3 linked regions of the Homo sapiens genome follow. The protein of the gene in region 1 interacts with the protein of each later gene in a biochemical or structural test. Each region holds a gene or a part of one and is shown in the gene's direction. Other genes may lie near its edges.

Region 1 (4,104 bases):
TTTTCACATTCATTCCATTTTCTGCATGATGGGTGGTCCAGGGGAACCATGCCAGTAGGCCCCCAGTTCAGCAGCGGGTAATAGAGGAGAATGGGTCAGGTCTCAGTTTTAGTTTTCCTTGTGCTTCTTATTTTCAAATTCACCTGCATTCAACCACATAAGTGTTTTTAAAGTAATCTTAGTAGTCCCTTTGAAATTATGTGTGCAGTAATTGTTGGAAGAAAGAAGTTTTGGGTTTGAATTACCGCTGTGTCAGCTTTAGCTCAGTGCTTTTTCTCTGTACTGCCCTGGAGCCAGGATGGAAGGGAGATGCTTTCCTGTCCAGACTGAAGAGTTACAGGGAGGAAGGAAGCTGTCTGCTGACAACAAATTCCCCATAAGATTTCTTTACATAGCAGGCTCCTTTACTCCCATCTGTACTTTAAATATCTATTTGAATTGTAGAGTTAGCCTTGGCCCCCCCACATTCAGGGTCTTGCCTCTTGCAGAAAGGCAAGTATAGTGTTTAGGAGTGAAGTGAAGCCAAGTGAGTGCTATGGTGCAGGCTGTGACTCTTCTCTCTCCTTTGAAGGAATTTACAAGCTCAGGCTCAGCCAACACTGAGACCACCAAAGTGACGGGCAGTCTGGAAACCAAGTACAGATGGACTGAGTACGGCCTGACGTTTACAGAGAAATGGAATACCGACAATACACTAGGCACCGAGATTACTGTGGAAGATCAGGTAATGGCTGCTGTGAAAAGATGTGGATTTATTAATTCGCATCTGCCAGCCTGCCTTGTGACTAAATCTAGTGGCAAATTTCTTTTCTGTTCAGCTTGCACGTGGACTGAAGCTGACCTTCGATTCATCCTTCTCACCTAACACTGGGTAAGAGTTTCATCTGTTTTCTCCACAAGGATGTTCTCTGATGTTGCAGGTGGTGGAAGCCCTTTGTGACAAAATGTTTTGGGGGCTGACAGCACCTAAAATATGGTCTCCGAGACCTGGCGATTTAAGTCCTCTGGTTTTGATTTGGTCCCAGGGGTCGTATCCACATCTATGCACTAACAGACTATGCTATAATGAGCACTTCCTAATTCAGGACTGGTGTTTACCCAACAAACGATTTCTAAGTGCCACCTGTGCTTGGCCCTGTGCCCATCTGGAGATCTAAGGGTGCCCAGGCCATGATTGTTACCCGCCAAGGAGCTCACTTTCTAATAGAGGATTCAGACCAGTGTTTAGCCGTGTTTTGTAATAAGATTCTGCATTTTGTTAGTGTTCTCCTAGTTTCTGCCATGGAGGTTGCAGGATTTCTGTTCAGTAATAGCCATTTCATGTGAGTTAGGCTGCTGGTGATGTAAGTGGCTATGACCAAACGGGAGTGGGTGACATTTGGAAGCAGGGCCTAACTGGTCACTGTTGCCAGCCTCATTTCTTCAGGCATGGAAGTCCTTCTCCCAGCTTCCTGCTGCTTAGGGACACTGAGACCCTGTGGGTGTAACTGCAAGGTGGCTCCTGAGGCTGCACTTTCCCCAGGCCTTCTGGCCACAGATGTAATAGGCTTGTTAGTTCTTGACCATCACTTGGCATGATAGCATGGTAGTCTGCCTCAATTCCTGGGTGCTTTTCAAAGTGCCTAGAAGGAATTATTCCCTTTTAGAATACACCCTTGTTTTTTTCCACTCATATTGGTGGGTCTTCCAAACCTGGGGAAGATGTTTTATATAGTGATGTTAGGGTCAAGGGCATGTACTGAATTTCAGTTTTTAAAAATTGTGGGCCGGGCGTGGTGGCTCACGCCTGTAATCCCAACACTTTGGGAGGCTGAGGCAGGCAAATCACCTGAGGTCGGAAGTTTGAGACCAGCCTGACCAACGTGGAGAAACCCTGTCTCTACTAAACATAAAAATTAGCTGCGCCTGGTGGGCGCATGCCTGTAATCCCAGCTACTTGGGAGGCTGAGGCAGGAGAATCGCTTGAACCTGGGAGGCAGAGGTTGTGGTGAGCCAAGGTGGTGCCATTGCACTGCACCCTGGGCAAGAAGAGCGAAACTCCATCTCAAAAGAAAAAAAAAAAAAAGAGTCGGATGCAGTGACTCATGCCTGTGATCCCAGCACTTTGGGAGGCTGAGGTGGGTGGATTGCTTGAGGTCAGGAGTTTGAGACCAGCCTGGGCAACATGGCAAAACCCCATCTCTAATAAAAATACAAAAATTAGCCAGGCATGATGGTGCGTGCCTGTAGTCCCAGATACTTGGGATGCTGAGGCATGAGAATCGCTTGAACCCAGGAGACAGAGGTTGCAGTGAGCTGAGATCGCACCACTGCACTCCAGCCTGGGCTACAGAGAGAGACTCTGTCTCCAAAAAAAAAAAAAAATTGTGGTAAGATATACATATAAAACTTAACATCTTTAAGTGTGTAGTTAAATGGCACTATGAATTTTTCAGTTTTGCCATTCATTTTTTTTCTTTCTTCCTTTTTTCCTTTCCAACAGATATTTATTAGAGGGAGGATCTACCAAGTGCAGACCTGTGCTGGGTGTGCAGTGCACACAAGTGACTGGGCACACATGGTTCCTATCCTCTGGAGATGTCGTCTTATAGCTTGGCTATAGATGATCTGAAGAGACCATTGTTACGGGGCTGATTTACTCTCATTCCTCTTCGCTGCTGTAGTTTCTCCTGCAAGAGCACTGCCTTTTTGCAGTGCTGTGCACTCTCCCCCCAGGAACTCTGCCATGGTATCAGGGAGCGGTTATCTGGAAAGATCCTGGGATAGGATGAGAGGCTGGAGGATGTGCCCACATGCTTGAATTTGCTGCCTGGGACTTTGCCTGCTGCCCTGGGATAGCACACTTTGGAATTTGTAGGTGATTTCCTTCCCATGACCTTAGGGAGCTTTGCAGAGGTCTCCAGGCCATGCAGTATAAAACACAAAGGAAAGTTTTTTGGTTTTTTTTTTTTTTGGGTTGAGGGGGACGGAGTCTTGCTCTGTCGCCCAGGCTGGAGTGCAGTGGTGTGATCTCAGCTCACTGCAACCTCCTCCTCCCGGGTTCAAGTGATCCTTTTGCCTCAGCCTCCCAAGTAGCTGGGACTACAGACACGGGCCACCATGCCTGGCTAATTTTTGTATTTTTAGTGGAGACGGGGGTTTCACCGTATTGGCCAGGCTGGTCTTGAACTTCTGACCTCGTGATCCACCTGCCTCGGCCTCCCAAAGTGCTGGGCAGATTCATGTGTTTCTCCTGCCTCAGCCTCCCGAGTAGCCGGGATTACAGGAATGCACCACCACACCCAGCTAATTTTGTATTTTTAATAGAGACAGGGTCTCTCCATGTTGGTCAGGCTGGTCTTGAACTCCTGACCTTGGGTGATCTGCCCACCTCAGCCTCCCAAAGTGCCGGGTTTACAGGCGTGAGCCACTGCACCTGCCCCCCTTTTTTTTTTAATTTACTTTTTATTTCAAAATAATTTTATACTTAGAAAAAAATGTGGCAAAAATAGTATGCAGAGTTCTCCTGTGTTCTTCACCCAGCTCCTAATGTTAATGGTTTACGTAACTATAATGATCAGAATCAGCAAGTTAATGTTGATATCATATAGTTAATTAATCTGTTGTCACAATGACGTCTTTTTTCTGATCTGTGATCCAGTTCAGGTTCCTAAATTGCATCTAATTGTTAAGTCTTCTCTAATCTGGAATATTTTCTGACTCTGACACTTTTGAAAAAGAGTGGCCAATTATTTTGTTAAGATGTCCCTCAGTTTGGATTTGTCTGATGCTTCCTTATGATTAAATTTAGGTTATGCATTTTTGGCAACTGTAGTTGTTGTGTTATATTCTTCTCTGCACCTGATGTTAGGAAGAATATATCAGTAGGCCTCATTTTTGGTGATCAGTTTTGAAGTGGTGTCTGCCAACTCTCTTCATTGTAAAGCTACTATTTTTCTCTTTGTAATTAGTAAGTATCTTGTGGGTAGACACTTTGAGATTATGCAGATATTCTATTTCTCATCATACTTTTGCTCAAAAATAGTAACATCCATTGGTGATTCTTGCCTGCAACAGTTACGCTTGGCAAATGGTGACTGGAGTGCAGTGGTGTGATCCTGGCTC
Region 2 (3,802 bases), on another chromosome or scaffold:
GGAAAACAAAAAAGTTTTAGGTCAAGTTTGAGGAAGGCTAGCCTAAACAAAGCAAACTAGATTTCCTCACTCTAGAATTTCTCAGAGACTAACTTGCCAATGTGCATAGCAAATCTCCAAGAGCAGGGTAGAAAACATGGCTTTATGTCAAAACTGCTTTTTTCATGGACTACTTATTAACTTCTTTAGGTTAGTGGTTTCCACAGAGCATAGCATATATTAATATTATTTCTCCTACAAATAATAATGTGAATCTTTCCACAAGATTTATTCCATCATCCAAGTCACTAATCCTGGGTAATACCAGTTAATCAGTGTCTGAAAAAAGTATTGCTGGAGTCCCTGCCTTTAATCTTCTGGGCATTGTGCTCTGTGCTGTGGGGGAGAGGGGACCTGCTATTGAAGGCCTCTGCCATTGGACTCCAGCCCTAACTCCCGCCATCCCCATGCCGCACTCTGCCCCTGCAGCTTAGTGAACCCGCTGCCCTGTGTATGCATCTTTTGTCTTCCTGTTCCCTGCCTTTGTTCCATCCTTCTCCCTGCCAAGGTGCCTCCCTCCCATTTCTACCAGTACAGTTGTCACCCATTCCTCAAGTCTTAGCCCAAATCCCAACTTCTCCATGGAAATTTTTCTAACTAAAGCGATGTGTTCTACACAGGACTACTGACCCCTTGAACTCAACTCTAAGCCCCTAAAGGCAGAGAGCATTACTTATACTTCCTGATTTTCTCCAAAAACCAGCATTCATTTGTGGGTTGATTGATTGCTCCCTTCCACCCCACCCCCCAAGAACCATAAGGCACACAGTTGTACCTTGGGAACTTCAACCCAGAGGTATGGGTCCTTCAGAGCTGGGGAGTCAGTGGTGAGTTTACTTATTTCATTCAGTAGACACTTATTGCTGGGGAACTGCTGGGAACTCAAAGTTGAACAAGACAAGGTCTCTGCCTTTAAGAAGCTCTTGGTCTAGACAAAAGCATAAAAACGTCATTGCAAGTCAATGTGCTGAGTTTAATAATTGAAAAAATACTGGAGCACAAAATTGGGTTCGTGGTGAGAGTAAGTGGAAATCGAGGCAGGCTTGTGGAGAGGATGTCACCTGGAGCAGATGTGGCCGGGTTATGGGGAAGAAGGACCTCTGAGAGGGGATTCAGATCTGTTCCCTGGGTCACAGGGAGGAATGTTGTAATGGAGCCAGTAGGTTACAGCAGTTGCTGAAAGAGGGTGTGAGATGGGACCTTTGCATCATACACACACAAACACACACACACACACACACACACACACGTCTGTGGGAATCCCACTTCCCTGCTTTTCCATCATACCCTCTCACCCCTTCTTCCTTCTCACCTTGACTCATTCTTCCTCTCCTCGTCTCTCACCTCCGGGTCCTGGGGCCATCCATCGTTACCTCATCGGGACAGCCCCGTGTCTGCTGTCTGTTGGTAGCTAGAGGCCTGCTTTGGTGACAGGCTGGTCAGTGCGGTGCCCACTCCCCATGGGGGGCCCTCAGGAGGGAGAGCAGCCTCAACTCACCACTTTCTCTTTTCTTCCCACAGAAAACCAAAAGAGACGTCAATAATTTTGACCAAGACTTTACCCGGGAAGAGCCGGTACTCACCCTTGTGGACGAAGCAATTGTAAAGCAGATCAACCAGGAGGAATTCAAAGGTTTCTCCTACTTTGGTGAAGACCTGATGCCCTGAGAGCCCACTGCAGTTGGACTTTGCCGATGCTGCAAGAAGGGGTGCAGAGAAGACTCCTGTGTTGGAGACACTCAGCAGGTCTTGAACTACTTCTCCTCCTCGGAGCCCCAGTCCCATGTCCACTGTCTATTTATTGCATTCCCTTGCCCCAGGCCACCTCCTCCCCCTCCCACCTGGTGACCAGAAGGCGCTCTCGGTTCTTGTCTCACCAGTAATGCAGACTCATTGGGTCAGCAATTAGCTGTATACACTGCCGTGTTTGGACCATTGGCAAGCCTGGTTCCACTCCTCAGGGGCTCCTGGCAGTGAAGCAACTTCAGTTCTTTTACTGCAAAGAACAGAAAAAAGAAAGAAAGCAAACAAGAAGACTCCGGCTCTGCTATCGGACACAGATCCTGATCCCTCTTGCTTCTTTTCCCTCCTGCACCGCAGCTTGCCATCCCTGCCCTTCTGTCCTGGAGAAGAGACTGGTGCTTCTCCGCACACACGAGGGAGGGCGCCCTTGAGGCATGCCCTCTGAGGGAGGGAGACCAGAGATGCAGGGATTGGCCAGCTGGGTTGGTTTGCTCTGGAATGGCTAACTCTTGCCTGCTTTGGTTTTAGCTTTTCAGCATGCCAAAGTCATGTAAGTTTGTGTCTTGTGGAAGAAATCCTCTTTGTGGAAAAAGAAACAGGGTTTTGAACTCTGTTAACATTTGAAAAATATATTTTCAAATTCACTTTCTAATTGGCCAAAAGAGATGAGTTCCAGTCTGAATACAGGTAGATATTAAAGGGCTAATAAAAAATGAGAAACCGGTCGTCCAAGGTGGATGCTGTCAATGCCCGAGTGACACATGAGAGCTGTATGAATTGAGAGAAAAGGCAACAAGTAGCATTCTTCATCATTCAAGTTCTACCTGGACACAAAGGCGAGGACCCTGGGGTTCCAACAAAGCTCAGCTCCCAGATTCTCTTTCCAGTTTCATCCTAAGTTCCTAGCATAAACACTATTTATTTTCTGCAGCAGTGTGTTATTTTTGCGCACTTATACAAAATGGTAGTACTACTGTGTTGTGGTTTTTAAACATTAAACATGTAAAGTTATATACGAAATATCTGCTTTTGGAATAAGCAGAATGAGGCTAAACATGGGTTATACAAAGGGTATCTGGAAACTGAAGAGCAACTTGTTAGAAAACTGACAATGTCGCAAGATGTACTCAGTTTTGTTTCTGTGTGACATGCAATGGCAACTCATGTGGACACTATTGAAGGGATGTGACATTACCTCCTGTAGATATGCTAACAGTGTTATTCTTTCATTTCCAAGGGTTCTCTGTGGCTTTGTGTATATGTTTCCCAGAGGTCATTTGATTACCTAATTTACTGAACTGATTTAGCAGGGAATGGAATCCATTCCAACTATTGCACGTGGATTTCCCAGCTGCCCCTAAATATATATACTTGTGAGTGGCAAAGTGGCACTAATGAAGCTTTTGCCTTTTGTACATTTGAGATTTTTGTATATAGTGTTTGCTGCAAGGCCTGTGGAATTAATTCGTTGCATATAGAGGTATCAACTGCTGCATGTTCAGGCATATTATAAAACTTTAGTCTATGAAAGAATAATTATAATAATGTCCAGGTGCAATACTCTGTAAGTCTATTGGTTCAAGTTACCGAGAGATAGGTGTGTTCCTTTATGGGGGATGGGGGGGTGTGTTGGGGATTCTTTGTATTGTTTATTTCATTTTGGTTTATTTTAAAAGATGTAAACATATATTAAGCTATATTAAATCTCACATACAGTTCTTCTGTGCTCTATTATACCCTGATAGAGATGGGGGAGAGAAAGGAATGTTTTTGATGGTGGTTTCAAAGCTCGGACAGTAACTATCTTGAGCCCATTAGAGAGTCTGTGTCCATATTTGCATCTGGCTGGTCATAGCCTTTGTTACTAATGATGACATTCAGTTCTCTTTTGTTTTTATTTTTTAAAAACTCAGGTGTAATTATTATCTGTTCTTAAGATAATTGCAAATATTAAATATTATGATATATCAATTCATGTGTTTGGCATACCAGTGAATGATGAAGAACATGAGATTAATTT
Region 3 (3,417 bases), on another chromosome or scaffold:
CTTGGGACCCAGGCAGCTCCTGGGGGTGTGTGAGTTATGGTCTGCCGTGTGTCTGAGGGCCAGTCATGCAGCATCCACCTAGGCAGGCTTGAGAGTCCTTGGGAGAGTCCAGGTGACCTGGTTTTTAATTAAAACGCGTCCTGTTTATTGTGGTTGGGCTCTGCCCAGAAAGGAAGGTAGGGCCTTGAAGTGGTGATGTCCAGGTTTCCTGCACAGGTAGGGTGGAGGCAACGATGGACTCTGGCATGGCCTTCCAGACAGGCAGTGCACACAGCTCCTTTCAGAGTGGCTTTGTTGCCAGCTGCTGCAGCACCTGCTTTCAGACAGATGATGACCAAGCTGCTTTCCTGCTGGGGGAAGGAGGCATTCCCCCTGGGTTGTTTTTCTCTTCTGGCCCCCACACACTGGCAGACCCGAAGGCAGGGTGCTCAGGAGCTGCAGAGCCTGGCAGGGTTTGCTGGACATGCTCAGGGACGGGCCATGGTGCTGGCTCTGCTTTCTAATCATGGTGTCAGTCCTTCACTTCCCTTGGAAATACCCAGAGATTTTATTTCCTGAAGATAGGACATGATGGGTGCTGTGAGATGGTATTTAAAGTACCTGTCTGCAAGGAAAACTTTAAAATAGGAAGTACTAAGGATAAGGTCCTATGGGATATTGGAATATTTTATAAAGCCACAATAGTTAAAGCACTTAGATGTGGACAGATGAGCAGAGAATAGAGGACTTTGAAACGGGCCAAATAAATATGGAAATTTAGTACAGGCTAGAGGTGTTTCCAATTAACGAGTAAAATGGATTATTCAGTAAAAGCAGTTGGCCCTCTGGAAAATAGTAAAGCCATGTATGTGCCTCACTCTTTATGCCAGTACATATTCCAGATTAAAGATTTCAATGTTACAATTATGAAAGTACTAGAGGAAAATATGGGTGAATTTTTTTTTTTTTTTTTTTTTGCCTATGATTCCAGGATTTTAAAAGTTTTAGATGCCCAGAGTTGTGGAGGTATGGAGAAGTGGACCTTCTCATACTGTTGGTGGGAATACACAATAATATAATTTGACCACGTAACAATTCTAGGCACATGCATGCTGTGACTACTTGCTAGGTGCATGAAGGCTCTTGCCAGGGGTGGTCATGGTTCGGTACCACTACATGGGGGTTTAGAGCAGGGACTGGAGGTTGGCCTTGCCTCCTCCCCTCCCCGCATGAGCTGAGGGTCCTTACCTGACCTTTTTGAGCTGTGACCAGAGTTTTTCCTCATGGGGTGGTTAGAAGGGTTGAATGAGAATGATGCCCATGCAGTGCCTTGGCTGGGGTCTGGGCCCTCTAACACCCACCTCATGGGTGTCACTGTTTTTTGAACAGCAGAACTGGAAAAGCCCAAAGATCCAGCAATAAAGGAGCAAGGCAAATAAAGCTGTTACCCTGCAGGATCAGTCAGCATGAGCCAGATTGTGCTGCAGTAACAAAGATCTCCAACAGCGCAGCGGCTACAGTTGGCACTGCTTATTTCTTGCTTGCACCTGTGGGCCACCGTGGCTGGGGCCTGTCAGACCTGTGCTGACGACAGCCTACCTGGACATATTTCTCCATGCTCACTGAGGCAGGGGAAAGGCCACAGCAGGCCACAAGTAATGTGTGTCACCCCACTTCCATTTCTGTGGCCAAAGGAAGCCACAGAGCCACACCTGAGTTCCATAGGACGGCAGCAGCTGATCATCCTATGGGCTGGGGTGCTCAGTATGGAGAAGTACAAGCAGCCACCCAGCGTGGGGCTGGTTGGTGCTGCTGAGGATGGGAGGATGGGAGGGGCCTGCATCCATCCCAGGGCAACATACCTGTTTGTCTGCTGGGGCTGCCTGACAAAGGACCGCAGGCTAGGGGACTTAAACAACAGACATTTCCTCATGATTCTGGAGCTAGAAGCCTGAGATCAAGGTGTGGGCAGGGTTGGTTTCTCCTGAGGCCTCGCTCCTTGGCCTGCAGATAGCCATCTTCTTGCCGTGTCCCTGTCTGTGTCTGTGTCCTAATCTCTCATAAGCTCACTAGTCTATTGGATCAGGGCCCACCCTCATGACCTCATTTAACCCTGAATTACCTCTTTAAAGACCCTGTCTTCAAATGTAAGTACTAGGGGTTAGGACTTGAACATAAAAATATTGAAGGGACATAGTTCTGCCCACAGCGGTGCCCGCGATAGGCTTCTCTGGTTTTGTCTTTGCTGTTCCTGGCAGCGCTATATTGGGCAGGCTTCTGTGGTCTCCACATGCCTGTGTGCAGAGTCCCCCAGGCCCTGGGTTCTGGGGCCCATACTGAGGAGTGGGGATGGCCAAGCCTTGGCTGTTGAGTAGGCAGTGCCCAGTTGTGCTGTATGGGATGCTGTTTCTCACTTAAGAAATCTTTCCCTACCTGGGGGGTACAAAGGCATTATCCTGTATTCCCAGGTTGTAACTTTCTGCCTTTGACATTCAACCTTGAGTCCACCTGTAAGTGTAACTGCGGCAGAAGGGAGGGGTCTGCTGTCATCCTTGATAGCCTGTGATGAGCAGAGCCCCTCTGCCGACCGCGATGCACATGTAATATGAGCAAGAAATAAATTTTTGATGTGCGAAGCCACTGAGTTTGGGGCTTGTGTTTTCCACAGCATAACCTATTATGTCCTGACCAACAGGGGATCCCATTTCACCTTTTTCCATAGGGCCTACCTCAGCATCAGCTGCTGGCTGCAGCAACTCACAGTCTGGCTGCAGCCACCCGTGAGCCATGCCTGGCCTACCCGCCTGCTCTCTGGTCTGATCTGTCCCTTACTAGTTATTCTAGCTTTTAAGTCTTGCTTATGTCATAGGGAAACCATCCATGTCCCCATTTTTCAAGTTGTCTTTGCAAGTTTTAAAACACATTGGATCACAAATGCAGAGGCAGCGAGGATGGTGTCATGGCCCTTGCCCAGCCCCAGCAGTGTTCACACTCTCCTGGTGCAGGCCTCGGGGGTGCCTTGTCGCTGGACAGCCTGGCCAAGCCTGCTCTCCAGGACAGCAGGGCCCGTTGCTCCCTTAGTTTTTCTTTGGGCTACATCATCTCTATTACAGGGACACGGTGGGTAGGGGCTGGCCAAGGAAGAGCCCAGGCCTGTGGGGTGTTCTCATTGGCCGGCTCCTTTCCTCCTGGCCTCAGGAACCACCCCCAGCACAGGGCTGGGGCCTGTGGATGATGGGTGCTCATGCACTTGCCACATTCTTCTGTGTCCCCATTGGTGGGGCTGCCAGCTGGGTGCACAGGACATCTGACTCCCCTGCCCCCTGCTGTGCCTGCGCTGCCCACCTCACCTCTGTGTCTGAGCACTGCAGGGGACTGGGGAGTGTTTGTGGGTTGTGGAGCCAGGGCTCTTTATTCACAGGCTGTGCATAGGGGGGG

What was found.
Region 2: the proteins of VDAC1 (region 1) and PRKCE form a complex in vitro, tested with the Homo sapiens proteins (one study listed by BioGRID).
Region 3: the proteins of VDAC1 (region 1) and RTL10 form a complex in vitro, tested with the Homo sapiens proteins (one study listed by IntAct).

What each region holds. Positions count from the first base shown.
Region 1 is NC_000005.10:133,987,622-133,991,725, reverse strand, and holds part of VDAC1 (non-selective voltage-gated ion channel VDAC1), read left to right. Parts: intron 1-571; coding exon 572-724; intron 725-818; coding exon 819-871; intron 872-2,482; coding exon of another isoform or gene 2,483-2,591; exon of another isoform or gene 2,592-3,808; intron 3,809-4,104. UniProt on the Homo sapiens protein: Non-selective voltage-gated ion channel that mediates the transport of anions and cations through the mitochondrion outer membrane and plasma membrane.
Region 2 is NC_000002.12:46,183,175-46,186,976, forward strand, and holds part of PRKCE (protein kinase C epsilon type), read left to right. Parts: intron 1-1,560; coding exon 1,561-1,707; 3' UTR 1,708-3,802.
Region 3 is NC_000022.11:19,845,344-19,848,760, reverse strand, and holds the end of RTL10 (protein Bop), read left to right. Parts: 3' UTR 1-2,615; downstream 2,616-3,417. UniProt on the Homo sapiens protein: Could induce apoptosis in a BH3 domain-dependent manner. The direct interaction network of Bcl-2 family members may play a key role in modulation RTL10/BOP intrinsic apoptotic signaling activity.